Homo sapiens: one gene and its partners. The protein of the gene in region 3 interacts with the protein of the main gene of each other region in a biochemical or structural test. Each region holds a gene or a part of one and is shown on either strand. Other genes may lie near its edges. The genes, in order: SNCAIP, CSNK1A1, SNCA and CSNK2A1.

Region 1 (7,000 bases), on a different chromosome or scaffold from region 3:
ACAGAATTCATTTCCATAGAGCGTTTTTAATGGCTCCTGTCAGAACAAAACAGCTGGGAAACATATGGTATCCATTTCCCTGTATCACTTGGAAAAAATTTCACATGTAAATAAAGCCAACATAAAAGAGTAGCCCTTTGAACCTACGACCTTATATAATACATAAATATATTGGTACAATGCACTCGTTGTATTGACCTACTAAGTTATGTGGCTTTAAAATTTTTTATTACATTCTGAGATGCACATTTTCTAGAGCTTCCAAAGAAATCAAGGTAATTGGCAAAATATTACTAAATATACTCAGTAATAAGAGTGTATCTCAGAAATGTCTATGAGTATATATATATTTTTTTTTCCATTTTATTTAAAGCCTTGCCGAAAGTTGATGAATAAAATTAAAGGCATATTTGCATCTTATAAACTCTATGTCCACTATCTGCTGTTTTAATTAAATAAGTAACCATGTGTTCTTGAGGAGAGAAGACTTGGCAGAAATTTCTGGCAGTCATTAATTTTTCATGGCTTTATATTTTTAGAGAGAAAAGTTCATATAAAAGATAGAAAACTTCTTAAATTTATGAGACCAACTGTAATTAGTCTTTGCCTTTGCATATTTACATTTCATAAATAACTTTAGCAAATTGATCTCTTACTGGTGATTATCACTCCACTGAGTTTATAACAGGATTTTGTCCCCTGTGAAATTAAACTGTAAATCCCTCAGAAGGATGCACTTTGTGCATTTTAGAAGATTTAATGTGTTGTGCAAAGTGAGATTCAAATTCACATACTAGCATTTGTTAATTGTCTGATCTATGCCAAGCACTGTGTACAACTGAGAACTAAAGCCAGCAAAAGGGAAGAAAAGCAGCAGCCTAAGACCATCTAGATACCTTCCTTCCCTTCTGGAACATTCTCTTCTACATTACTTATTGGAGAGAATCGAGCCCTCCTTCCACAGCTCGTAGTATTCTCTTCTTAGATTCTAAAATGTCAGAGCCAGAAAGGTCTGAGAAGTGGACTGCATAGTGCAGACCCTTGGAAACCTCATGCAAAACTGTGGTCAATTTCAGGGAAAGAACTCACTGATAGTTATATAGCATTCAGGCTCAGAGCACTCACTCTCATCCCGTTAGCTTGGTTCCAGAACTTCTCTGAATCCTTTTAGAACATATCCCAGCAGGAAGAAGAATGACCAGTAGCTTAAATTTAGGGAACTTTAATAATGTATGTTCCACTTTCACCCTAAGAATCAGTCATAGCCAGAGGCTATGGCAGAAGTTATAGATGTGAGTATACACCCATCTCATGTTCTTTTTTTCTTTGGTTGTTCCCAGTAGCAAAGAACACACACATACACATGCTTCCCACTTGTTTCAGAAGAGAAGCGGTAAATGGAAAGTCCCTAGTTGTAGGGCATGCCCCCTGAAATCTCATCCTTTGATGGGGGATGATAGGAACTACATGGCAGGGAACTAGGAACCCATAAATCAGTGGCCTGCAAGTTTCCAAGGGTACTGGGTCATCTTTTATCTAGCAGTGGAGTGGCCCAGGGAGGAAGCAGTATAATCATATCTGAGGAGACTGTTATTGCTCCATCTGCTTGCCTCAAGAGAAGGCACCAGGCAGCCTCTCATAACCAGGAGAGATGGCTCTTATCTTTCACCTCCAGGTGTGTCTGGCTGTTTCACTTTCTACTCTATCGCAACCAGACACTTACTCAAATGCAAACCAACACACAATCTTTATCCAAACTTTGCACAGAAATTAGAAAAAAAAAAAAAAAAAACCACTCTGCCTGACCCATTTTCTTTTCAGAACTTTCTTCTCCTGTTTGTTTCCAGCCTTCTCAACAATGGAGGGCAGTATTGAATCCTAAAGAACATGTTCTGTTGTGAAGTGTTAGTGCATTCTGTCACTGTGTCATATGTCAGAAAGCACCATGAAATGTTGCTGCATGATAGTTGACCAGGGTACTTTGACCAAGGTGGGGTTAACTCAACTATGTCTTCTCTCCCACAGTCCTTTCAACTCCTGAGCACTGTATTCCTTCCTATTCTTTCCCTAATCCACTTAATGGCACACCTAGGGAGTCACTCAAGGAGGTCATAGTTTGAATTTGCTCAATATTAAATAATTTGCCACTTCTTTTCATGGGACTTCTTGTGCATTAGGGGTGTATGTGGACATGCACGCTAATGTGTGTGCATGTGTGCATACGTCCCTTTTCTCCCTAAATCAGTTTGGAAGTTTATTTAACACTGAAGATCTTATTCTCTAATCTTGTTTTTCAGGGTGGTGACAAATATAAAAATATTGCCAGGGAGGTAGATCTATCCAGGGAATAAACCTAAATACCTATCTGGGTTTGCTTCCTTAGCCATTTACCTGTACCATTATTATTACTTTAATTAATTTTGAGTCACTGTGTTATAACCTTCTTTGATCATTCACTGTTTTCCAATGGTAAGTATGATTTTTTTTGTTCTATTGATGTGCACTCTAAGTCATCCTCACACACAGAACCTTAATTTGAACATAATGTGAATGAACCACATCTACCTGCATAGCCAAGATGTGTTCAGCATTCCAGATTAATAGCTTTCTATTTTAATTTTTTAAAAACAGTTTCTAGCTCTAGCTGGAATTGTGGCATCTCAACTCTTATTACAAACACGCAAAAGCCCACAGGAATCGCTGATGTGTACAGTAAGTTCCGCCCAGTGAAGCGGGTTTCGCCACTGAAACATCAGCCAGAGACTCTGGAGAACAATGAAAGTGATGACCAAAAGAACCAGAAAGTGGTTGAGTACCAGAAAGGGGGTGAGTCTGACCTGGGCCCCCAGCCTCAGGAGCTTGGCCCTGGAGATGGAGTGGGCGGCCCACCAGGTAAGAGCTCTGAGCCCAGCACATCGCTGGGTGAACTGGAGCACTACGACCTCGACATGGATGAGATTCTGGATGTGCCTTATATTAAATCCAGTCAGCAGCTTGCCTCTTTTACCAAGGTGACTTCAGAAAAAAGAATTTTGGGCTTATGCACAACCATCAATGGCCTTTCTGGCAAAGCCTGCTCTACAGGAAGTTCTGAGAGCTCATCATCCAACATGGCACCATTTTGTGTTCTTTCTCCCGTGAAAAGCCCTCACTTGAGAAAAGCATCAGCTGTCATCCACGACCAGCACAAGCTGTCCACTGAAGAAACCGAGATCTCACCTCCTCTGGTTAAATGTGGCTCTGCATATGAGCCTGAAAACCAGAGTAAAGACTTCCTAAACAAGACATTTAGTGATCCTCATGGTCGAAAAGTTGAGAAGACAACACCAGACTGCCAGCTCAGGGCCTTCCACCTACAATCCTCAGCAGCAGAATCCAAACCAGAAGAGCAGGTCAGTGGCCTAAACCGGACCAGCTCCCAAGGCCCAGAAGAAAGGAGTGAGTATCTGAAAAAAGTGAAAAGCATCTTGAACATTGTTAAAGAAGGACAGATCTCTCTCCTGGTAAGTATAATCTAGTTCAGTATACATGTCAATAGACTGGAGACTCCTTTTTAATAAACTGCATTCGTTAGTAACAGAACGATGCTGCATTTGTTTTGGTTTTTACTTAATCTTTACTTGTGGCTTTAGTTGGGAGATGTGACCTTTTGAGTTTTAAAATAAGAAGTTATGAAGTTAATACAGGGAAAACAAATAACTATAGAGGGAGTGTTATTTCATTTTAACTTTGCATGAATTCAACTGAAGACTCTTAATCTCAAAGAGAGCCCGGCACTTTCTTTAACTTGAATCTCAATGTCTTTCTTTTTGCTTTTCAAATGGTTCCCAGTGCTCTCACGCAGCTATTTGTGAGGATGTCAATTCTTGGCTGATGGTGGACCTGCCAGACATGTAAACAGAGGGTCTTCTGTTTTGTCCTGATCATTATTCAGAAGAATTGGACCAGGTTGTTTGAAAAGCATTTGTAGATAGAAGCTTACCCAAGGGCTTCATTGCCCTCTGACCCAGGTGGAGTTTTTACTTACTTCCAGCTCTGCATGTCTAGGGAGCATGAAGAAGCTTTTCCAAAGACTCTAGACACAGAGTAACATGATGTAAGAAAAGTCTGTTCTGCTTTGGCTTAGAGAGAGCTAAACTTAAATAGCACTCCATCTGCCTACATTGTTCTTTTCTGGCTTCCAGACTTGGATCAAACAGTAGCAAGCCTGGGCTCGTACTATGATGCTAATTAAAGTCTCATTCAAGAAAATCATCACATCTTGGCAATGTGATTCTACTTAGTATAAAGCCATGCATACTTAAGTACAATGTACTTGCTCTATTATCACAAATACTATTGTGATAGGGTAATATAATTGAATAATTTTATGAAATAAAGTAGTATTTTTTCTCCTGAAAATGTCTTTTCCATTTTCCTGGCTCTTCCCCCTAATTCTCTTTGGTTCATTCCTTTCTTTTGTCCTTCTCATGTTTTCATGTTTCCCAAATGCTAAAAACACCTCTTAGCTCACCCAACAATCTCTATCAACGAGTTCATAGTCAAGGGACAAAAACTTCACTAGAGATGAGAAACCAAAGCCATGTAGCCTCCAGATACCCCCAGGAGTTTGTTTGATGACAGTGTCTAGAGGTACCTATGAGAGCACTAGTAGCAGCAGTCATCATGTTGTTTGCCATAGCCAGTTCTCTACAATTCAAGGCAAAATAAACAGGTAGAGACAAATAGCTCATTCATTCAACAAACATAGAACAGGGAATAAAACCCAGCCCCAGCCCTCAAGGACTTCACAATCAAGTAGGGGAGACAGACAGGGAACCTGACAATTACTGTAAATGTAATTATAGTTCTTTAGAAAGCCAACTTGAAGCCTCCACACCTCATTGGCCCTAGCCCTGTTGCCATGTCTCGTATGAAGATCTGTCTCTCGAGAACTCATTTTCTAAAGCATATTGTAACAAAGAATAATAGCAAGAAACTGATTTATTAGATCCCCAAGGCTGCCACCAGAGCTTCTATAAGCTCATTTCTTCTTTCCAGTGCCCAGAGAAAAACTCCTACAGGGTCTTGCTCTGATTTATTGACTTGGGTTTTCTAATCTTACTATTTATACAGCCACACCTAGCTGCAGACAATCTAGACAAAATTCACGACGAAAATGGAAACAATCTATTACATATTGCGGCGTCACAGGGACACGCAGAGTGTCTACAGCACCTCACTTCTTTGATGGGAGAAGACTGCCTCAATGAGCGCAACACTGAGAAGTTGACTCCAGCAGGCCTGGCCATTAAGGTGACTGGTTGGGGGCTGGAACCTCCACAGCTAGAAGCTGGATTTCTATTTTTTAAGATTCCTTGTGAGCTAAAGTGTTGGAAGGGAGAGAAGAGAGTGATTTGTCAAGCAAAGAGCAAATGAACATATTGCATTTAAGAGAGTAATCATTTCAGTCACTGCTTTGAGATTTTGAGACTTAATTCCCAGTTTTTGTCAATCTGCTACTAAAGAGAAAGGAAAATGATATGTTGTAGTTCTAACAACTTTTGTTATTCATAGGGATTGCAATTAAGCTTCTTAACCACACCTGGATCTATCAAAGACTATCATTTCTTCCTAATATGACAATAATGAGCAAGACGAATGTGGGGAAGGTGTGTTTTAAGGATGCTAGCACTCGGGAGTATTTCAGATCACAAAGTGGGCGCTTAACGGATCACATCTGAAGTTTGAGTGTCTTCAGTATCAAGAATTTTTTAGAGTATCAGTGCCGAGTTTGAGTTTAGCTCTTGCAGAGCACAGTACGCTACCAAAAACTACACAAATTAATGTCGACTGGAATAGAGTTAAAACCTAGAAACTGTGAGACAAGAAACATGGACTTTTATAGCACTGCAGCAAGTGCCTCTGCAAAATATAGCACATCACTAGAAGATTAGCTATTCAACTAAAATTACCTAAAAGATCTTTGGCAAATAAATGTAGAATCCAATCATATTTATTAAAAAGCCAGAAGTGACATTCAGGGAAATATAATACATCTTGTATTTTTGCATATGTGCTTTGCTTTACATAATAGTTGTGTCTTCTAAAAGCTGAATAATCATAATTTTTATAAATTTAATTATATTGAAATTGGTGAGGGGAATTTGTTAGAGAAACCTACATGTGAATTCACTAAAGAACGTTACATTTAAAAAACCATTAACTGCTGTTCTACCTTAATATATTTTTTACGCAAACCTGATTTTTTTGTATTTTTAATTTGATGATTCAGCAAAGTTTTATACATTAAAAAATAATTTCCATTTTATTTAATTTTGCTCGGTTAAGCAAGGTAATTAATAAGGTATACTTCAAATCTAGCATAGAAGATAATTTTTTAAATAAAATAAATCTATGACCCTGGTAGGTATTATTTTGCTTTGGTTGTAAGTGATATGATGTTGAATTAAGAAGTAAACTTCAGGCAGCTATCATGAAGAAAGATAAATAGAACTAAACTACAGGCAGCTATCATGAAGAAAGATAAATAGAACTAAACTACAGGCAGCTATCATGAAGAAAGATAAGTCAAATGTAAAGTCGAGATTTAATATAGTTGAGCTTAACAAAGTGTACCAAGTTTACCAGGTACTGCGTTTGGTGGCTGGCAATACAAATTTGTATAAGTCATAGTCCCTACTCTTAAGGAGCTAATATTATTGCTAGTGGATAAGACTGGTAAGTTATCAGTAACACAAGTATAGGATGGCAAATTTGGGATATAGCCCTGTGACAGAGTTCTGTAGACATCAATGAGCATGTGTCAGTGATAAATATTCTTGCAGTGCTAATGAGTGTTAAGATTTGCCTTGCTGTTTTAGTGTTTATAAAATACAGTTCTCATTAGTCTTCCTAATGGTAGATTATTTATATAGGTAGAAGAAAATAATTTTTTTTAATTTGTATGCCCTAGGGCTTGTTTTGATAGATTAAAAATCTCTGAGTAGAAGGTACATAA
Region 2 (8,028 bases), on a different chromosome or scaffold from region 3:
GCGTAGTAGTGCAGCTCTGCAATTCCAGCTACTTGGGAGGCTGAGGCAGGAGGATCACTTGAACCTGGGAGGCGGAGGCTGCAGTTAGCCAAGGTTGCGCCACTGCACTCTAGCCTGGGCAACAGAGTAAGGCTCCGTTTCAAAAGAAAAAAAAGCCGGGCACAGTGGCTCATGCCTGTAATCCCAGCACTTTGGGAGGCCGAGGCAGGCAGATCACCTGAGGTCAGGAGTTCGAGCCCAGCCTGGCCAACGTGGTGAAACTAAAATACAAAAATTAGCTAGGCGTGGTGGCGGGCGCCTGTAATCCCAGCTACTCAGGAGGCTGAGGCACGAGAATCACTTGAACCCGGGAGGCAGAGGTTGCAGTGAGCCAAGATCGTGCCATTCATTGCACTCCAGCCTGGACCACAAGAGCGAAAACTCCGTCTTAAAGAAGAGGCTCCAGTAAACAGTAAGTACCATTCTTACCTATTCTGAATAATTTTGCAAATGTTATTTTAGATTATTGCTGGAAAATAGCTGGGCTTTAAACTATATTTTAGTCTCCATTCCATGAAGAGGATCTTTAATCCCAAAAGTTAAAACATTAAAACCCTCCAAAGTAAAGTTAACCATTTGACAGAACAATGTCTATCTCGTCATCTTTTATCCTCGTTACTGCTATTTGCACTCACCAATATTCCACACCAACAAAGGCCCCAATTTCTCTGATGTGAAGATTTACTGACAAACTCAACAGGTTAAAATTACTTATCAAAGTGTGGCTAAGTGATTAAGATTTTTTTAAATACAACTGATATGAGTAAATTTTAACATAGTTGGTGCTGCTCAAACTGCCTTTGCCACTACCTATACAAATTTAGTCCCGACTGAAACGTGCCAAATATGACCATTCACGAAAAGAAAGAGTAATTAACACTTTTAAAAGAACTACGAAGGATTTTACATAGTGTAATTCAACAATTTCGTGTCACATCTGCTGCAGAGATCACAAACACTGTCACTATGCCATCTCCTTCCTCGAACCTCCACACCGCCTCCTGCAGCTTTATTCTTGGCTTTTCAAAGGTTTAATCCACTCGGGGCTGCTAAAGGAGGAATCAAGGAAGCATAATTTGTGAACTCAAGCTGAGAAAAGGGCAGGAATATGGGGTTGAGTCACGTCGTTCCGCCATTTTCTAAGCGGAGGAGGAAGACATGTTGGAACAAAAACACAACAAAAGAGCAGCCATTTCCCAAGCCAGCTCCAATAGCAACTCGAACTGACACTGCCGGGTCGCTTCGGCACCTTCAAATCCACTTCACTGGACAAACCTAAGTACATCAGAAGTGCCGCCGTAAAAAAGGCAGCAGCCAACCCTTCCGCGTAGGGATCAAAGATGACCTGCACGCATAACTGCAAATGAAAGCCTCGGGAAGAGTGAGAATGACGGAAGCGAAATGGAGCAGTGTAATACAATGAAATAAGTTGGCAAACTGAAATTTACTCAGTAATTGAGATGACTGACTTACAGGAAACCACCAGCTATAGGGAACCCAGGTAACTAAAACACCAAGACCCGGATTCAGCTGGTCTCATTACCTGCCTCTACCCACTTCCCCATTCCGTGCTTCCCTCAGCGGATCGCCTATATGCACCGGGTTCTTACCGTATGTGGGGGATGCCAACCCCACCTTGAAGAATCTTATAGAGCTTGCTCTCGTACAGCAACTGGGGATGCCTGGCCTTCTGAGATTCTAGCTTCACTGCCACTTCCTGCAGGGGAAAGAGGGGATGATGGCATCAACATCCCTACGGATTCAATGTCACTTAGGAAAGGAGGGAGACATTAGCAAAACTCCAAGTCGCGACTACAAGAAGAAGTGAAAAGCTGGAAAGAGAAAGCTCTCGGTAATTATAAAACGAGGCAACCAGCCTCAAAGGCCTCTTCAGGGGGTAGTGACGAAATCCGTACGTCCTCTAAAGTGCAGGAAAATGATTCATCCAGAAAAAAGAGGCAACCTCTGAACGTAGTGAGAGGTTTTTAAGGAACTAGGCGATCGGAAACTGTTCTAATTGGAACAAGAGGCCCAGTAGAATTAAGAATTAAAAAAAAAAAAACATGGGAATCACTGAAAGAGGATTTTGCCGTTTCCACCTTAAAAGACGGTTAAAAAAAAAAAAAGCTCGACTAAGGGACATTTATGGGACGTGTTTAACAAGGTGGGAAACTAGTTCCCCCAACCTTTCTATCGGGTTCTTGACCCTTTTAGGGAGACAGCGGACGAGGTTCGTAAGCCAGGAAAACTAGCTCCCTGGACTCCCTGGCGAGTGCGTGCGATGAGGAGAGGCCCGAGCACTTTGGGGGTGCACGGTGGTGGTGGGGGGAATGAGTAAAAGCGCAGCGTTATCGTGAACCCCACCCCAGATGATTACCTCGCCGTTGGTGATGTTGATCGCCAAATAGATGTCCCCGAAGGAGCCAGACCCGATCTTCCGTACCAGTTTATATTTCCCTCCGACAATGAATTCAGCCTTGGAGCCGCTGCTACTCGCCATCCTGAGAGACGAAGATGGAGGCTGGGGCCAAGCCCCGACACCTCTGGGAAGAGGACGGAGGCCTCGGGGCTCCTACACTAGGCAAGGCTACGGAGGAGGGCGGCAGGAAACGGAACACGGAGGCCTTTACCGGGGTTCGGGGCCCAGAATCAGCAGAGGGGAACCTGATCACCGCCGCTCAGTCAGGTTTCTTTTTGCCAGGCCGCAGTTTGTGAAGGGCTTCTCGGCGGTTACCAGGCTGGGCCACTTGTTTCTCGGCGGCCGCCGCTGCCTCGCTTGCGCGGCGACGTCGCGGGCTGGAAAAGGGGCGCGGTGAGCTAGGGCGGCGATACCGCTGCCACCACTGCCGCCGGCTCCGGCCCAGAGGGACCCCTGTCACTCCGCGGACGACGCCATCTTGTTACTCCAGCTCCAGCCAACACAAAATGCCCCCAGTCCCCGGGAGCCGCTTCTTCACGGCGCAGAGCACTCTGGGAAAGGGATCTCGGGCGCTCGCTCCGAAGGATCGGCAGCGAGAGGGCGGAACCGGATCCGTGAGAGTCGCGGCCCACGCTCCGAGCGTCACCCTGTCACCGCCCAGCTGCGCATGAGCGCTGCAACTCCTGCTGACTGCGCAGGCGTGCCGCGGCCTGTCCTCACCCCCGTCCCGGGCTCTCTTCCACTTCCGGTCGGCGGCGGCTCAGCAGGTGTTACCTGTTACTCGCCTCGGACCCGCCGGGTCTCTGGAAGGCTGAGTGGCCCCCCGGCCTTGATATTGGGAGGAGTCACCTTCATGTTTCGTGGCAGATGAAAGCTTAAGGCCTCCTTAGGAGTTGGGTATTGACCTGTGCTCTTTGAGGCGGTTTTTAACCTTTGATCTTTCTTCTGGCCGTTCCCCCGGACCGGCCTATTCCAACCCAGTTTCTGTTTGGAAAGAGGCTGTCGCCTCTGGTGGAGAGGAAGAGAAAAGCAGCCAGCGTCGAGGAATCTCTCAGGGCTCTCGGTTGTAGCAGAGCCTAGCTAATTACCCTTCATAATTAGAATTGTCCTATCTACTACGGAGTGTTATAGACCCTCTTTCCACAGGAGGGGAAGAAAGAAAGAAGCCGGAATCCCCCTGCCATCCTATGTCTTTGCATTATTGCCTCACTACCACATATGATCTTCAGAAGAAAACCTGGTATGTTGCTCATAATGAAGATTAAGGATAGATGGAATCAACAGAAAATTAATTTAACAAGAGTGAAAAAACTGTTATGTCCCCTCAACCCCACCAAAAAAAAAAAAAAAAAAAAAAAAAAGAATCGTATGTTGGTCTTGTTGAAAACCTCAGTATTAACCTGAACAGAGTAGAGGTAACTATTACAAAATTTAATTGACAACATTTAAAACTACACGGTAATTTTTTTCTTTTTTACAAAAAATCGATCAGAGAATCAAATTTTGACCACGTTTTGTTTTACAAAATTTGACCTGGGAAAATTGGGCTTAGTAATAATAATGTTCACGAAAGAAAACTCCATGGTTGATGCTATCATCTTAAGTCAGACCTCAGTCGTAAAAATTTAAGCTAAGCCTATCCTAAATAAAATTTAATTAAAATAGAAATGGGGGGCGGGCGCAGTGGCTCACGCCTGTAATCCCAGCACTTCGGGAGGCCGGGGCGGGCAGATCACTTGAGGTCAGTTGTTCGAGACCAGCCTGGCCAACATGATGAAACCCCGTATCTACTAAAAATACAAAAATTAGCCGGGTGTGATGGCGCACACTTGTAACCCCAGCTATTCGGGAGTCTGAGAATCGCTTGAACCCGGGAGGCGGAGGTTGCGGTGAGACTAGATCACGCCACTGTACTCCAGCCTGGGCAACAGAGAGACCCTGTCTCAAAAAAAAAATAATTAATTAAATAGAAATGGGAGAAAAATGTGAAGAATTTTAACTGCAACTTTGAAAGGTGGTCAAGTAATTAGTAATAGGGTTCATCTCGGAAGACAACTGAAGAGAGAGGGGAGGAGACTTCCCCTGAAGTTTAGCATGAAGTTTTTAAAGCCCAACCAACACTCAGGGTGCCCAACTCCCAAATCAGCACTGTTAGACATCATTCTCCTTTGGTGACTCTAAAGCATGTTTTGACTAAGTTAAAATCTGCTGTTAAATTCTGATATAAAATGCAGCCGGGCATGGTGGGCTCACACCTGTAATCCCAGCACTTTGGGAGGCCGAGGCGGCTGGATCACCTGAGGTCGGGAGTTCGAGACCATTCTGGCCAACGTGGTGAAACCCTGTCTCTACTAAAAATACAAAACTTAGCTGGGCATGGTAGCATGTGCCTTGTAGCTCCAGCTACTAGGGAGGCTGAGGCAGGAGAATCGCTTGAACCTGGGAGGCAGAGGTTACAGTGAGCCGAGATCGTGCCACTGCACTCCAGCCTGGAGACAGAGCGAGACTCCACTCCATCTAAAAAATTAATTAATTAATCAATTCTGGTCTTAAAAAAAAAAAAGCCAAGTTTAAGCATCTTGAGTTTTCCAGAGATCACTCCTTTTCTGCTAATTTTCTCACACACATCCAAAGTTTAATGGATTCCTCAGCTTGAGGAGTTCTCCATAAGGGGATGAGGTATACATTTAGACGGATATTTTGGTATTGTGATAAAAATGCTCAATGAAGCCGGGGGCAGGGTAAGGGTGGGCATGAAGTGGTCTAAATTAGTGATTCCCAAAGATCTGTGTATGGACAGGTGCAAGTGGCTAACAAAGTTTGCCATGAGGATGTGAGAAAAGTAAGCAATACATCTTTCATTTATTTATCTGATTTCACATTATATTTCATTCTGAGATTTAGTCTTTTCACATATGTGTCATTAAAATGCTCTTTTATAAAAAGGTGCCGATGGTAGATGGTTTTGGTTTTTAAAATATTCTTGCTCGGTTAAAAGTTGAGCCCGGGTGCAGTGGCTCACACCTGTAATCCTAGCACTTTGGGAGGCCAAGGAAGGGCAATCACCTGAGGTCAGGAGTTCGAGACCATCCTGGCCAACATGGTGAAACCCTGTCTCTACTAAAAACACAAAAATTAGCCGGGCGTGGTGGCGCATGCCTGTAATCCCAGCTACTTGGGAGGCTGAGGCATGAGAATCGCTTGAACTGGGGAGGTAGAGATTGCAGTGAGCCGAGATTGTGCCACTGCACTCCGGCCTGGGCAAGAGAGTGAGACTTTGTCTCAAAAAAAAAGTTGAAAGCTGCGTACGGTGGCTCATGCATGTAATCCCAACACTTTGGGAGGCCAAGGCAGGAGGATCATTTGACTCCAGGAGTTCCAGGCTGCTGTGAGCTATGATCAAACCACAGCATTCCAGCCTGAGCAACAGAGTGAGACCTTGTCTCAATAAATGAATGAATGAATGAATGAATGATAGGTACTTGTATGTCTAATCCTCCTCGCCTTTTTTTTAGAACTTGTGTAAGCCCATTAAATTCTACTGGTCTAAATGACTTCTGGAAACCCTTCTAACCCTGAGATTCTATAATTTTGTATATAAGGTATGAGTCCTCCTTTGTTTCCTGCCTGCTATAGTCACCATTCCAACACTGACAGTGCCCAGCAAAATGCACAAAAATGAGATGTGAGTGGGTCTAGCCTTTTCAAATGTGATTTTAGTTTCTTAAGATTTAAATTTATTGGATTTAAGAATGGCAAAATTGTTTTTTTTTTTTTTTACATAGAAAATGAAGTCCTCAGGTGTTGGCTATGACTCAGCCTTCTTCTTAAAGTCATGTATCATTTGCAGTAATTTTAGCCTAAAAGATTGAAGAATAACCTGTTTTTGGTGTTGCTGTTAAAGTCACAAATCATTCTGTACTTATTGAATCAGCAGCAGCTTTGGTGTAATGAAAGGAGTCTTTTAGGCCAGGCACGGTGGCTCACGCCTGTAATCCCAGCACTTTGGGAGGCCAAGGCAGGCGGATCACAAGGTCAGGAGTTCGAGACCAGCTGGCCAATATGGTGAAACCCCGTCTATACTAAAAAGTACAAAAATTAGCCGGGCGTGGTGGCAGGCGCCTGTAGTCCCAGCTACTCAGGAGGCTGAGGCAGGAGAATCGCTGGAACCCGAGAGGCGGAAGTTGCAGTGAGCTGAGATCGTGCCATTGCACTCCACCCTGGGCTACAGAGTGAGACTCTGTCTCAAAAAAAAAAAAAAAAAGAAAGAAAGAAAGGAGTCTTCAAAGAGCAATTTCTGGCTTCTAGATCAGATGAATTCACTAAAAATATCAAAAGTGTAGAATAAAAATAAAAATTTTAGACCTTGAGGGAAATACAGAGATCACCTAGTTCAATAATAATAATTGTATTTTTTAATGCTTTGCAATTTACTTATGAGTCAAAGTCTCACTCTGTCACCCAGGCTGGAGTACAATGGCACCACCATAGCTCACTATAGTCTAGACCTCCTGGGCTCAAGCAATCCCCCTGCCTCAAGCTTCCCCAGTAGCTAGGACTATAGGCAGGCACCACCATGCCTGGCTAATTTTTTTTTTTTTTTTAACTTTTTGTAGAAATAGTGTCTTGCCTTGTTGCCCAGGCTGGTCTTGAACTCCTGGACTCAAGTGATCCTGACGCCTCATCCTCCCAAAACGCTAGGATGACAGGCAAGAACCACTGTACCCAGCCTGCAATTTAGAGTACTTTCACACATATCATTTGTGCCCCAGTAAGACAAAGTGGCTTGCCCAAAATCATAGAGATCTTAGTGGCAGTGACAGGACTAGAGCCACAACTACTACCAAAAGAAAGAGAAAAAGGAAAGAGTAGAACACAAATTAGGACAATCATGTCCCAGGGATTACTTCTGTGTTCGTAGGGAATTCAAGATGAATTTTAAAACTTTTTTTTTTCTTGGCTGGGTGTGATGGCTCATGCCTATAATCCCTGCACTTTGGGAGGCTGAGATAGGAGGATCGCTTGAGGCCAGGAGTTCAAGACCAGCCTGAGCAACATAGACCACATCACTACAAAAATGTTTTAAAATAATAAAAACAAAAACCATTTTTTTAAGCCACAGTGTTTACTCAAGCAACGGTCACTGGTATCCAGAATGTGCTTTGAGTGAAATGATAGAGACAAGCACAAGAAGTCTAGATGGATGCTAAAAACAGAAGGGTAGCCTGCCAATCTCTAGAATTGTTTGGTGCAAGTAAATAGAAAAATGGAATGCCTTAGAAACGTCAGTGTCCCAAGTGTTGTTTATTTTATTTATTATTTATTTTTGAGATGGAGTCTCACTCTGTCGCCCAGGCTGGAGTACAGTGGCGCGATCTCAGCTCACTGCAACCTCCGCCTCCCGGGTGCAAGTGATTCTCCTGCCTCAGCCTCTTGAGTGGCTGGGATTACAGGCACATGCCACCATGCCCAGCTAGTTTTTGTATTTATTTATTTATTTATTTATTTATTTATTTATTTTGAGATGGAGTCTCGCTCTTGTTGTCCAACCTGGAGTGCAATGGTGCAAT
Region 3 (7,031 bases):
CACAGAGGTGAAGAATCTTGCAAAAAACACACAGCTGGTAAGGAGTAAGCAGGAAGTTGAACCAAGAAGATCTGACTCCTGTGTTTTTAGTCATATCCACAACACTGTATTAAGATTCCCATATCATTGTCCTCATTTCCATTTTAGAAGTCAGTGATAGGAACATTTTATTTGTATAGGCACTATTGTGTTTAATGCTTTCCGATTATATAAATTATATTTCTGATTATATCTTTTGCTTCACCACATCTGCCAGGAAACGTGGAGTACTTACAACAGAAAACTTAATTACAGCAAGTCTGTGGGCTTTTAATTTGTTAAATTTTGGTTCTCCTTTGATTTCTCTATTTCTGGCACTCTCATCCTCATCTTCCTCAACATCTGATGATGATTATCATCCTTTTCATCATTTTTGATATTTCTTGATTGTAAACCTAATTGACTTGTTCAAATTCTCGGTAAATTTAGGCCAAATGAATAATATAATCAGAAATGTAATAATTGCACAATAATATTTGTACAAATAGCTATACCATAACAATACAAAGATAAATACAATAAACATTTTACTGACTGTCCAAGGGTGTTTCCTGAAATGCACTCTGAATTATCAAAGGAATATTGTAATCAACATAATTTAAGGTCAAAATATTTTACTGTAATCAACAGAAATTTTACTTTTTTTAAAATTATGGCAATATTCACATTTTATTTTTGTCAGCAGTTTGTCAATACATTTTTGGTCAGAATATTTAAATGCCCACTTACTATAAATTAAACATAGCTTATCAATTCAAAGCCCTCATTATTCTTGGCAAGTATATTTTTTATTTATAATCAATATTTACCTATTTAAAAATACTTTATAAAGAATTCAGTTTCAATAAGACTGATATGTTCTTAGAATGCTCAGTGATTGTTTTACAATTTCATAGGAATCTTGAATACTGGGCCACACTAATCACTAGATACTTTAAATATCATCTTTGGATATAAGCACAATGGAGCTTACCTGTTGCCACACCATGCACCACTCCCTCCTTGGTTTTGGAGCCTACAAAAACAAATTCAAGACATAAGTCTCAAGCTAGCCTTAAATTGCTGATTAGCTAGTTTTCAATACAACTAATTTAAAAATCTCAATCTTCAGAAGTATATATATTATTATATCTTCAGGGAAAGAAAAAAATATATATATATATCCTAAAACTAGAAGAAGGAACTCCAGTAACCACCACAATAAATAGAAGAAAGCCCAGCTAACAGGAGGTCCTCTCCAATTACGATTTTAGCACAAAATAATGACTTTATCCCCTTTGTTCCCACATCACATGTCAACTTACAGAGGAGAAAAAAGAATGAGATAACACCGGGGCCCAGTGAGAAGATAATTTTGAATTCAGAACTGTAGAAGCTTTAAAAGTACAGCACTAGAGACAGATCAGTCAACCCATGAAACAAAAGGGAAGAAGGATGGAGAGAAGGCTTTAACATGTGCTGAACACCCATTATGTAAAAAAAACATTTTAGGCTGGGCGCAGTGGCTCATGCCTGTAATCCCAGCAATTTGGGAGGCCGAGGTGGGCAGATCACGAGGTCAGGAGATCGAGACCATCCTGGCTAATATGGTGAAACCCCATCTCTACCAAAAATACAAAAAATTAGCCAGGCGTGGTGGCGGGTGCCTGTAGTCCCAGCTACTTGGGAGGGGCTGAGGCAGGAGAATGGCATGAACTCGGGAGGCAGAACTTGCAGTGAGCCAAGATTGTGCCACTGCACTCCAGCCTGGGTAACAGAGCAAGACTCTGTCTCAAAAAAACAAACAGACAAACAAACAAACAAACAAAAAACACATTTTACATATCATCTTATTTAATCTTCATAACAGCCATTTAATATAGTTATATTATGCCCATTTTAAATAGCTGATGAAATTAAAAATCCGAGTTAAGTAATTTATGTAACATTACACATGTAATAATAGGCTATAAGCACATTCAAACTAGGGTCTCTACACAGGATCAGAATTTCTTCCAAACCTTGAACATTACTAAACTTGAATACAAATAATTATTATGTGTATTATTAAAATTATGCTTGTAAAAAATTGTATTCATATCCTCTCTAATGTTGGATTTTTCAGTGTAATTCACACTGTATAATTTATGGAATCGGCATGATTTTTATGTTTTACAGAATTATCATACTCCTTTTTAAGTTTGGATCAGTTTACAAAATGTTATCATTTGCACTTTAATGTCATGATATACTGACAGTGTATTTAACATAAGGTGTATTTTTCAGCAACACTTCCTCTGGGACACCTTCACTCTTTATCACAACCTCTTTCCCCATTATACGGATACCTTCACCTCACTACGTTCCTCTGACTGCATATTTAGAGTCTCCTGAATTGCAGCAGTGACAACATCCTCAGGGTAGCTACTTCCTGTATACATCAACTTATGTTTGATTCAAATTTTACTTCCAGAATGTTTCACTTCCTTTGTTTGCTACTCTTTCATCTTTGCTGGCCAGTTTCCTCTTTTGATTGCGCATTTTCGTGAAACATCACATGGGCTCACCACTGGGAGACAATGTGGCCACACAAGTCCGGGCATTGCTGTCTGTATGAACTGCATAACAGATGTGAAGCAACCAATCTCCAAAAAGCTTTGAAAGAAGTGCTGTGGTTTTGTCACTGATTATAATGGGTTTCTGTTATTTATGTAATGATTTGAAGGCTGAAGAGTTAGCAGCAAAGTTTGTACTTTATGCAATGACTTTCGGTATACTGTGGTAACAGAAATTTGAATTGTGTTGTTAGTGGCTGGTGTTATTTAACTAACCATAGTACCTGGAATTTGTTTGTGCTGGAACTATGCAGAGTGAGAACAGCTGATATTTAAGAGAATATGTTTCAATCTCTATCTCTCATCCTCACCACCTGCACCCCATGTTGTCTTAAAAATGACTAGTAGTAAGAAATGTCTAACAGCTGGAATGCGATCTTTGTTCTTTGCCTTAGCAGTACCTAAGAATTTGACCTTTGGTTAAATTATGAAACATATTCTAAATCAAAGACAATGAGATAGAAGTAGAGAGTAGAATTATGATTATTAGAGGCTGACAACGGTAAGAGGGAGGGGAGGATATGGAGAGGTTGGTTAAAGAATATGAAATTGGAGCCAAATATGAGGAATGAGTTCTAGCATTCTGTAGTACTGTAGGGTGATATACTTAACAATAGTTTATTGCATATGTTCAAAAATCTAGAAGAGAGAATTTTTAATTTTTACTGTTCCCACCACAAAGGAATGATAAATGTTTCAGGTAATGGATATGTTAATTACCCTAATTTGATTATCACACATTGTATACATGTATGGAAATATAATTCTGGATCCCACAATTATATACAATTATTACATATTCACTAAAAATAAAAGAAAAATTAAAAATAGAGTAGCATATGACCCAGCAATCCCTCTTCTGGGTGTAGATCCACAAGAAAAGATTTCAGCATATCTGTTTCCAAGGGCCCCAACACAGTGGCTCTTGCTTGGAATCCCAGTGCTTTGGGAGGCTGAGGCAGGAAGATCACTTATAACTATATAAGGAATTTTAAAAACACTAAAACTAATATTTATTTATTTAGCAAACCAGAATTTAAAACATTAGAAATTAAAGTGTTTTATTTCTTTGTAAAAAACTTATCAAGAGTAATGTAAATAGTGTTTGTCTTCTTCTCATTGTATAACTTCCTATACGGAGTGGACATGTTTTTTATATTTTACAGAATTGTCATACTCTATTCTAAATTTGAATTAGGAGTTTGAGACCAGTCTGGGCAACAGAGTGAGATGCTATATCTACAAAAAATATTAAAAATTAGCCAGGCATGGTAATGTATGCCTGTAGTCTCAGCTACTTGGGAGGCCAAGGCAGGAGGATCTCTTGAGCCCAGAAGTTTGAGGTTACAGTGAGCTATGATAACACCACTCCATTGCAGCCTGGGTGACAGCAAGACCCTGTCTCCAAAAAAGAAAAAAAGAAAAACATAATAGCCACAACTAAAGTGTCTACTGATAGATAGGTAGATAAAAAGATTGTGGTACATAGATACAATGGAATATCAGTCAGCCCTAAAAAAACAAGATCCTACCATTTACAACATGGATGAACCCAGACAAAATTATGCTAAGTGAAATAAGCCAAACACAGAAAGAAAAATATTACATTATCTCACATATATGTGGAAGCTTGAAACAAAATTCAAATATACAGAGACTACGTAAAAAACAGGGTTAATAGGGGTGGAAAAGTAGGTAGAAAATAGGGACATATAGGCCATAGGATCCAAGCAAGTAGCAGATGTGTAAGATGAAAAAGTGTACAGATCTAATGTATGAGGACTGTAGGTGATAAAATTGTACTATATTTGAGATTCATGATAAATAAGTGGATTTTAGCTGCCCTTGCCACAAAAACAACAAAAAAGGTAACTATGAGAGATTATGAATATATTAATTTGCTTCAATATAGTAATTTTTTAGTGTCTAATGTATCTGATAGCATCATGTTGCATACCCTAAATATACACAATTAAATTTATTTTTAAAAAAGAATGCCACTAGGCCGGGTGCAATGGCTCACGCCTGTAATCCCAGCATTTTGGGAGGCCGAGGTCGGGGATGATGAGATCAGGAGTTCGAGACCATCCTGGCTAACATGGTGAAACCCCATCTCTACTAAAAATACAAAAATTAGCCGGGCATGGTGGTGCATGCCTGTAATTTCAGCTACTCAGGAGGCTGAGTCAGGAGAATAACTTGAACCCAGGAGGCGGAGGTTGCAGTGAGCCGAGATCACACCACTGCACTTCAGCCTGGAGTGAAATGACAGATTGAGACCCTATCTCAGAAAAAAAGAAAAAAAAAAGAATGCCACTAAACCACACCATTAGAACTTATAATTAATTATTTTTTATAAATATCTTATGCAACATATTTTATATTTTTGTAGTGCAACCCCAAAGAGATAGGTATATAACTTAAAAAAACGAGATAAATGAGAGTCCTCATAAGGTTACCATGTATCAAACCAATCAGTTGTTCTTTGAGGTCATAATTATTTACTAATAATCTGTAATTGATGGTTAGCCTTTAATTTATGAGTAATCTGTAATTGATAACGTACACCTACAAAATAGGTGCCAAGTGGTTATGTGACTAGCAAGGTATAAATGCTGTAGGGACACCAGAGCTGATGGCTTCCCTGAGCGGAGGTGTCCCACACACACCCTATCTTGTCTTCCCAACCTCAAAAGAGCACAGAGTGGAGAAGAAGGTCAGAAGTAATACCTGAGAGTTTTGAGAACTCAGTTATCCCTGTTGTGCATGTTATGTTGACTTTGTCAGCTTAGTGAGGTGAAGCACATTTTGACTTGAGAATTTGCTATCAATTTCACTGATGGCCACTGCTGCTTATTGAGCAGAGTGGCATTGGAAGACACTCAAAGATCATCATTTTCTTGTATTTATTGCATTTATATTACTGAGCATTATATAAAGATAATTAAATCTTTCTGCTTTTGGATTTAGATCTAATTAATTTCTGAGTCATTTGAAGAAATTTTTGTCTATTAAATTGAAGTATGTTGATTGAAAATTGGTGTACGCAGATAACAAAAATGGAGGGAACAAAACCCATAAAAATAACACTGATCATTAAGGTAGTTCTTCAATGAGTTAAAAAGTAGTTGTTAAAAGTATATTCTTATAAAGGAATGAGATTACTTTTCTTATGAGGCTTCTACCAAACATCTTCAGCCATAAGTGAAATTATAAAATGGTCTTTGGTCGCCTCCAATCTTTCAAACTAGTTATGTAATGAAGGATAAAAGAATAAATGGAAAACGTGTTGGCAAAGTAATTATTCCGTTGGAGAGTTTATTTGATAATAATAACCATGGTTCCTATATATAAAAGTGTGCTCAATTATTCATATGTCCTGTCTTATTATGACATTCCCACAAAAACTGCAAGGTAGTTGCAGTTTTCTAAATCATATTTTTTACTAATCAGGGAAGTGATGCTCAGAGATGTTAAGTACGCTTCCCCAAGACCCTAAAGGTGATAAGTGATGTAGTCTCAACTAAAACTTTGGTTTGTGTGATTAGTGCATGTTCTTTCCACTCTATCAGTAGTCAGCAAGCTACAACATACAAGACAATTCCAGCCCACCACCTGTTTTGATAAATGAAGTTTTATTGGGACACAGCCACACTAGTTATTGTTTATGACTACCTTCACACTTCAACAGCAGAATTGAGACATAGATTTTTTTTTCTTTTTTTTAGACAGGGTATCACTCTGCCACCCAGGCTGGAGTGCAGTGGCTCGATCTCAGCTCACTGCAACCTCTGCAGTGAGCTGTATGGCTCAAGCCATCCTCCTACCTCAGCCTCCTGGGTAGCTGGCAATACACATGCATGCTACCATACCCGGCTAATTTTTGCGTTGTTTGTAGACACAGGGTTTCACCATGTGGCCCAGGCTGGTCTCAAACCCCTGGGCTCAAGTGATCCACCAGCCTCGGGCTCTCAAAGTGCTGGGATTAAAGACCTGAGCCACGGCACCTGGCCAAGACATAGATCTCATGGCTTAAAATACGTGCTATCTGATTCCTTACCCAAAATTTTGCCAATCCCTGGACTATACTATTGTGTCTTCACATGGTCATTTTTTATCTTAAATTCTGTGTGTAAGTTCAACTCTCAATTAGAACTCAGAATGTAACCAATAAAAAATTTATAGAATGTGCTATGTGTTAAATGCCATGAGAGACATTGAAAATGATTTCAATGAACAGTTAAAAGGTAACTAAGTCAAAGAAACTTGTGCTTGCAGAACTTGGAAATCTGAGGACAAACGGAAAGATATTGATAAACTGCATGTCACTGATTCAGTATTCCAAATTCCATCTAAAAAGGTATAATTCACACTTCATAAAATATTTAAAATTAACTC
Region 4 (7,395 bases), on a different chromosome or scaffold from region 3:
CTGCCATAACAAATTACCACAAATGTAGTAGCTAAAAATAACACAAATTTGTTATCTCACAGTTATTGTAGGTCAGAAGTTGGGTGGGCTTGGCTAGCTAGGTCTTTTGCTTAGGGTCTCACGAGGCCAAAAATCAAGGTGTCTCAAGGTTGCATTCCTTGGTGGAAACTGGGAAATTCACTTCCAAGCTCAATCAGGTTGTTGACCAAATTCAGGTTCCTTCTGGTTGCACAACTGAGGTCCCCATTTCTTTCTGGTTGTCAGCCAGGGACTGGTCTTTGCCACTAGAGGCTGCCCACATTCCTTCTGATAAACTTTCCATGTGGTCCTCTCTAGCAAAGGCAAATGGAGTCCTTCTCATGCTTCAAATCTCTGATTTCCTTTTCTGCCCATTTCTCTGATCCCAGTTGGAGAAAGTTCTCTGCTTTTAAGGACTTAAGTGACTAGATTCGGCCCACCCAGAAAATCCAGGATAATTTTTCTATTTTAAGATTCTTAACCTTAATTACACCTGCCAAGTTCCTTTTGCCATGTAACACAGGATAGCTACAGATTCTGGGGATCAAGGTATGGCACCTTGGGAAGAGGGAGATGTAATTCTGCCTACTACAAATCCAAGTCCTATGGAAGGGTTTAAACTCACTTCCTAAAGAAAATCATCCCTTTCTTTAACAGAGTGTGAAGTAAAGATGTATATATTTTACTTATGTGAAGTAAAGTATATATACATACATACATATGTCTTTACTTATGTGACACAAAGATGTATGTTCAGAGATAGAGACAATAGTAAAAACAAGGACTCACTCTGGATGAGTGAGTAGGAAAAGGACGCGCAGTATGGAAAAGGAGTTGCCACCTGTTTCATCCTCAAATTGCAAGGCACTTCACCCATAACTACTTAGAAACTAACCCATGCTCCTCCTTAAATGTGTATTTCTCTTCTCTGTATTCCACAAAGGAGTACATAACTAGGCTTTTTTTTATTTTTAAAGAAAAGTCACCTCACGGGGACCTAACTGTATAATCAGTTGATTAATCAATCTAAGCAAATTTCCAATCTTGCATTCTTTCTTCAAGTCATACACCCTCCCGCAATAGCAAACCAAAGCCAAGTATTTCAAAGTCACAGAAGGACAAAAACATGCCCTGCTAAGACTGCAGGTGAACTTTTGAGAATACCACGGAGGAGAACTAGTATTGGTACTGGACTTTCAGCCCCAGGTCCACCAAGCCAGTAAAGCCAAATGACTTACAACAAAACCCTACAACAACTACAAAGATACTACTCTAAAGCCCTGTCTACAGTCAAATTCTTGACTATAAATTTTACTTAGAACAGAAGAGCCCCAAATATACCAGCTAGTCCCTTTACAGTGACAGGTAAAAGCTACTTACTACACTTACTACCTGCCAGACACTGTAGTAAGCACTTGACACAAATTGTCTTATTTACTCTTCTCCGTAAACTCACAAGCTAGAAAATACCATCATCCCCCTTTTACAGACGGGAAAACTGAGGCTTAGAGAGTTTAGGTCACACAGCTAAGTAGCAATGGCCCTGATATTTGAGAACCTAGGCAGTCTGGTTTTTAACCACTGGGCCTACACTGCACTCCTCAGATGGAATGAAGTCTCCAATTCTTGGAAAAATCTTCCCTTCTTAGTTTTCTTTTTTCTTTTTGAGGCGGAGTCTCGCTCTGTCGCCCAGGCTGGAGTGCAGTGGCGGATCTCAGCTCACTGCCACCTCCGCCTCCCAGGTTCAAGCGATTCTCCTGCCTTAGCCTCCCGAGTAGCTGGGATTACAGGCGCGCGCCACCAAGCCCGGCTGATATTTGCATTTTTAGTACAGACGGGGTTTCACCGTGTTGGTCAGGCTGGTCTCGAACTCCTGACCTCGTGATCCACCCGCCTCGGCCTCCCAGAGTGCTGGGATTACAGGCGTGAGCCACACGCCCGGCCTCTCTTCTTAGTTTTCATTTCCTCTCCCCATGTCCCATTCTCGTAGAATTAAACAGCTGAAAAGTAATCAAGTCTTCCCAAATAATTTGCCACCTTCTTTTCAAAACTCTTTCCTCCACACAAAGCAATAGCCAAGATGCAACTTCTCCTGACCCTGACTCTGCTTCCCCAAAACAAACTACAGAAGCTCCACCCATCACCTGCTTAATCTAGCAATGTTCCAACACTGCAAAAAACACACAACGAAAAACAAAATTGAAAAGTCCTACTCTTTCAAAAGGTCACCAACATATGTATACCCTTAGCCAAGCTTTCTCTCCATACCTCTTTTTCTATCCAGGCTCCTAACTAGTCCTTAACTCCAACTCCAGACGTTCTGCCCCACGTCTTGGTCCCTTCCCCCTTTCGCCCCAGCAACCCCGCCTGGGGTTCTCTCCACCTCGCACCCACTCTGCAGGTGGGAAGCTCAGCCCCGCCCAGAGGGACCCTAAGAAGGCCCCTACTCCAGCTGCCCAGTTTCGCGGGAGGGTTCACTGCACACTACCCAGCAGGCACCACTCCCTCCGCACCCTCCCCCAGCACCCCCCTGCGGCCCCACCCCTCAAGTTCCCTTCCCCCTCTGACGACCCCCTCCTCCAAGTTGTCCCCTAGTCCCCACCCAGTTCAGTCCTCTCCTCTGCAATAAGCTGGACTCCGGCAGCCGGTTCCCACCCTCACATCGGCCTCTGCCCCCAAACCTCGCCCTCCGCCCTGAGGGGTGGCCCCTGGGCCTCCCCGATGGGCTGCAGGGGCCTCGCTTGGTTTATGTGTGAAGGTGGGGGCAGGGGAAGGCGACGGGCCGCTCAGGAGTCTGCTGGAAGCGTGAGGGTCGGCCGCGCTCCGCTGCCCTATCCTGGGCCCACCCCACCCGCCAACGACCTCGCCTGGCTGCTCCCTAGGTACCTGTGGTGGAAGCGGCAGCGGCGGCGGCCGCTCTCCCCTCTGCTCACACAGACAATATGGCGGCGATGGAGGAGGAGACACACGGCTCGGCCGCCAGCCGCAGGGACCAGAGCGAGGCTGCAGCCGCTGCTGCCGGAAGCGGAAACCCCCTCCTACCAGGAGGCGGGGCGAGACAGCTTCCGACTCCGCCCCCAGAGGAATCTCTCTGAATGCGGCCATGCTGGGATGTCCTATTGTAACCTTAGGGATTCAGTTCTGGCCTAGGGTGCAAAATGGAAGGAATCCCCAACGCAAAGCAGAATAAGGAGACTTGCAATAGTTAAGCGCATTTTATTTCAATAGTGTTAACAAGTGACAACAGAGAGAACACGAACCTCCCATTAGGTGAACAGTTGGTTTGACCCAAGTTAAGATGGCGGTACCCAGGTTTCCCACACTTCACCCAGCTGGCCCCCCTTTCTTGAAAAGAACCATGCGCGACCTGCAGAGCTGTAGAGCCAAGCATTCTGGGAGCTGAAGTCTCTTTTGCTCTGACCCCTCGTTTTAAATTAGGGTTTCAGCAACACTTTCTATTCAAACTTGGAGTTCGGAAGAAGTGAATGAAAGTTGGACCCTAGGAAGGGCATGGCGCAGGAGTCTGAGAAGTGAGGATACTAGCTCTCAAGAGACCAAGGCCCAATTCCTTCCTCCTACAGGAGTCCTGCCAAGAGCTGTGCGTCCAAAATACAGTGTTTTTTTTTCCTTCTATCTGCCTCCCACCCCTGCTCTCCTTGCCCGAGCTACCTCCCCAAAACAGCCACAAAGCACTTTCTACCATGCAGAGCTCATCATGGTCTCCCTATGGTCAAAAATCTCCCATGGACCTCTTTATGCACCAAAGATAGCCCAAACTCTTCACTTGACATTCAGAGTCCTCCATAATTTGGCCAAACCCTCCTTTCCAGCCTCCTATTCTGCCACTCTCTTCTCAAATTCCGGAAGATTCCACCCACAAGACTGCAAACAATTCCTGGAACTTAGCTGTGTTGCCTCCCTCCCTTTACACTGGCAGTTACTTCTCTTACTGTCACCTCATGGACTGGATAATTTCTGTATGCCGATTGAACTAATTCAGGGATCCTTTCCTCTAGGGGTCTCCTCTCTGTTTAACTCCCTCCAACCCAGACACTATCAGTCAGTAACCTGAGGACCTCAGTCTGTCTCCTCCATCAGACTGGGAGCCCCCAGTGGACAGGGCTCCATCTGATGATCAACCTCTCCTTTGCAGGCCCTGATAAAAGCTGAAGCGTCTAAGAGTTGCTGAAAGGAGTTCAAGTATTAGTCTCACCTCTGGTGGGACAGAGGTGTGAGCACTGGAACGAGGGTGAGGAGGCCAGGTTCTTTCAGTACCAACCATTATCCCTAACTGTCTCAGAATAGCTGGTTGTCTCAGGAATGGGCCTCTCCACCCTCCACAGCCCTGCCTTCACAGTTTGTCAGCTGACTAGCACCTCTGCTCCCAAAGAGGCACCTCTTCCCCATGTGGGGTTAGGGCTGGTGGTGGCTGCAGACTTATAGTGATGGCCTCAGGGAGGTGGCTGTGGCCTTCTCTGGACCTCATCTGCTAGACAGCTTGTGACATCTGATCCCAATTGCCTGGGAACCCACAACAGTTTTTCTCTCAGTGTCCTGTAACTGGGCCTCAATTTCCCCACTTGTGGACTGAGGAGGTTATACAAGATAATCCCAAAGTTTCTGGGAAGCCATCTTCCAGGAAATGATACCCTTCTACCTACCTCTCGAACGTATCTTTTTGGCTCTTGTGGCTTTGTTTTTCCCAACTGTATTCACATTTGTTTAACTCACAACAATTCATCATTTGCTATGAGCCAGACACTGTGCTAGGTACTGGGGATGTGTTATGAGGAAGACATACACCAGTTGCTCACTGGTGGAGCTTACCTTCTAAAGTGAGAAGCAAGTAATGCACAGGTAAACAAATGCATAAACAAAGTAATTTCAGGTAGCAATAAGTGCTACGAAAGGAAAAGATAAGTAGCTGTGAAGTATAGAGCTTTAGCTTGAGTGGTTCAGAAGGTCCCTTTGAGAAGGAAACAGTAAGTGCAAACGTCCCAAGGCAGGAAAGAGCATCACAAGTTTGAAGAAGGAGGCCATGGTGGCTGAAGCACTGCAAATAAAGGGAAGAAGAGGAAGAAATATGGTGGGAGAGGTGGGCAGGGCATTCAGGTCATGATAAGGAAGCTGGGTTTTCATCTGAGTGTAGTGAGGATATTTCCCATTGCTTAGCCTTCATGCCTTTCCAATCTCAGCCTCTCTCACAGCATTAGTTCTTCATTCTTCTTCCTAGTTCTGGCCTCTATCCATGACTTCATTCAGAGGGCTCACCTGGGCACACATATACAACCCTCATACTCATGCAGGACATAATTGAAACCCAACTCCTGCCGTCTACTACGCCAGCCTCATGTAGGTCTCCGGTCTCAAGAGGCTTCCCATCCCAAGTGTTCACCTAGTTGTAGACTTAACATTTATCCTTAACTCTTACTGTCTCTGATCCCCCACATCACACCTCTCAGGCTAGTCTTTCTGCAAACAACAGCAGCAGAAGCAAGAGTTAAGATGTTGAGAGTACTTGCACTGTGCCACACACTGAATGTTCATCATCTCACTTAATCCTCATGTCAACCTGATGAGGTAGAAACCAAAAGTATCTCACCGTACAGATGAGGAGACTCAGGTTCACAGAGATCACAGGCCATGCCCAAGGTCACATGCCGGAGATGGAGCTTGCATTTCAACCTGGGCCATTAGAGTGACTCTCTCTCTCTCTCTCTCTTTTGAGACAGGATCTTGCTCTGTTGTCCAGGCTGGAGTGCAGTGGCATGATCACAGCTCATTATAACCTTGAACTCCTGTGCTTAAGCGATCCTCCCACCTTAGCCTCCTGAGTAGCTAGGACTACAGACATGCACCACCATGCCTGGCTCATTTTTAATTTAGTAGTATTATTATTACTATTATTATTATTGTACAGATGGGGTCTTGCTATGTTGCCAGGGCTGGTCTTGAACTCCTAGGCTCAAGCAGTTCCCCTGCCTTGGCCTCCCAAAGTGCTAGAATTACAGGCAAAAGTTTTAATCATGCACTAAGAACCTAAGTGTATTTGCTTTCTATTGCTGCTTAACAAAATCACCCCACAATATAGTGGCTTAAAACAACAATATTTTATGTTTGTGTGGATTGGCAGTTTGGACATGTCTCAGCCAGGACAGCTCTTTTCTGCTCCAAGTGGTCTTTCCTGGCTTACTCTTACGTTTGCTGTCAGTGAACAGGCCAGCAAACTGGTTAGAACTCCATGGCCTCATTCACATGTCTGGCAGTTGGTTGGGGTTGTTGGCTTGAGTGCCTTGGTTCTCCTCCATGTTGCTTCTTCAGTAAGCTAACTCAGGCTTACTTACATGACGGCCCCCAGAAGAAAGAAAACAAAAGCAGCAAGATCTCTTCAGATCTAGGCTTAGAAATGATATAGCATCATTTTCACTGTATTATATCGATCAAAGGCAGTCATATGGCCAGCTCAGATTCAAGGAGAGTAGAAATAGATTCCATCTCTTCATGAGAAAAACATCAAATCATACTGCAAGGAGTCATGTGTATAAGGAGGGTGGAATTGTTGTGGCCACCTTTGCAAACATTATATCACATAAGTAATCGTAGGCATGGAACTGGTTAAAGAAATTATGGTACAGCCAGACATGGGGCTATTCACAGCAATGAGAACTAACATTTTTGAGCACTTAATATGTGTCAGACACTGTACAAGATGCTTTACATCTATTAACTCATTTAATCCTCACAACAGCTCTCTGTGGCCAGTACATTTTTAATCCCCATTTTAGAGATTAAGAACACCAAGTCTCAGAGAGGTTAAACAACTAGTCCAATGTCACACAGCAAGTGACAAAGCCATTGAAAAGAATGAAGACAGTATTATGTCCTGACATAGAAATCTGGCCCTGACATTCTGTTATACGATACAAAGCAAGAGACAAACAGTAGTTTGATCAGAAAACATTTAAAAAGCACATTTAAATAATTAGGAGATGTGTGTCTTTTTTTTTTCTGAGATGGAGTTTCACTCTTGTTGCCCAGGGTGGAGTCCAATGATGCCATCTTGGCTCACTGCAACCTCCGCCTTCTGGGTTCAAGCGATTCTCCTGCCTCAACCTCCCGAGTAGCTGGGATTACAGGTGCCCACCATGCCCAGCTAATTTTTGTATTTTTAGTAGAGATGGGATTTCACCATGTTGGCCAGGCTGGTCTTGAACTCCTGACCTCAGGTGATTGCCTGTCTTGGCCTCCCAAAGTCCTGGGATTACAGGCATGAGCCACTGCGTTCAGCTGGAGATGTATGTCTTATAAAAATTAGTAGAATAAAAATTTTTATGTCTTATAAAAATTAGTAGGCCGGGCGCGGTGGCTGATGCCTGT

Evidence for each region.
Region 1: the proteins of SNCA (region 3) and SNCAIP form a complex in vitro, tested with the Homo sapiens proteins (3 studies listed by BioGRID and IntAct, with this or other methods).
Region 2: of the proteins of SNCA (region 3) and CSNK1A1, one has a biochemical effect on the other in vitro, tested with the Homo sapiens proteins (3 studies listed by BioGRID).
Region 4: of the proteins of SNCA (region 3) and CSNK2A1, one has a biochemical effect on the other in vitro, tested with the Homo sapiens proteins (3 studies listed by BioGRID and IntAct).

What each region holds. Positions count from the first base shown.
Region 1 is NC_000005.10:122,420,237-122,427,236, forward strand, and holds part of SNCAIP (synphilin-1), read left to right. Parts: intron 1-2,631; coding exon 2,632-3,503; intron 3,504-5,115; coding exon 5,116-5,295; intron 5,296-7,000. UniProt on the Homo sapiens protein: Isoform 2 inhibits the ubiquitin ligase activity of SIAH1 and inhibits proteasomal degradation of target proteins. Isoform 2 inhibits autoubiquitination and proteasomal degradation of SIAH1, and thereby increases cellular levels of SIAH.
Region 2 is NC_000005.10:149,548,426-149,556,453, forward strand, and holds the start of CSNK1A1 (casein kinase I isoform alpha), read right to left. Parts: upstream 3,015-8,028; 5' UTR 2,540-3,014; coding exon 2,417-2,539; intron 1,941-2,416; exon of another isoform or gene 1,757-1,940; coding exon 1,650-1,756; intron 1-1,649. Other genes in the region: ARHGEF37 (rho guanine nucleotide exchange factor 37), read left to right, coding at 3,677-3,698.
Region 3 is NC_000004.12:89,827,131-89,834,161, forward strand, and holds part of SNCA (alpha-synuclein), read right to left. Parts: intron 1,055-7,031; coding exon 1,013-1,054; intron 1-1,012. UniProt on the Homo sapiens protein: Neuronal protein that plays several roles in synaptic activity such as regulation of synaptic vesicle trafficking and subsequent neurotransmitter release.
Region 4 is NC_000020.11:540,768-548,162, forward strand, and holds the start of CSNK2A1 (casein kinase II subunit alpha), read right to left. Parts: upstream 3,024-7,395; 5' UTR 2,905-3,023; intron 1-2,904. UniProt on the Homo sapiens protein: Catalytic subunit of a constitutively active serine/threonine-protein kinase complex that phosphorylates a large number of substrates containing acidic residues C-terminal to the phosphorylated serine or threonine.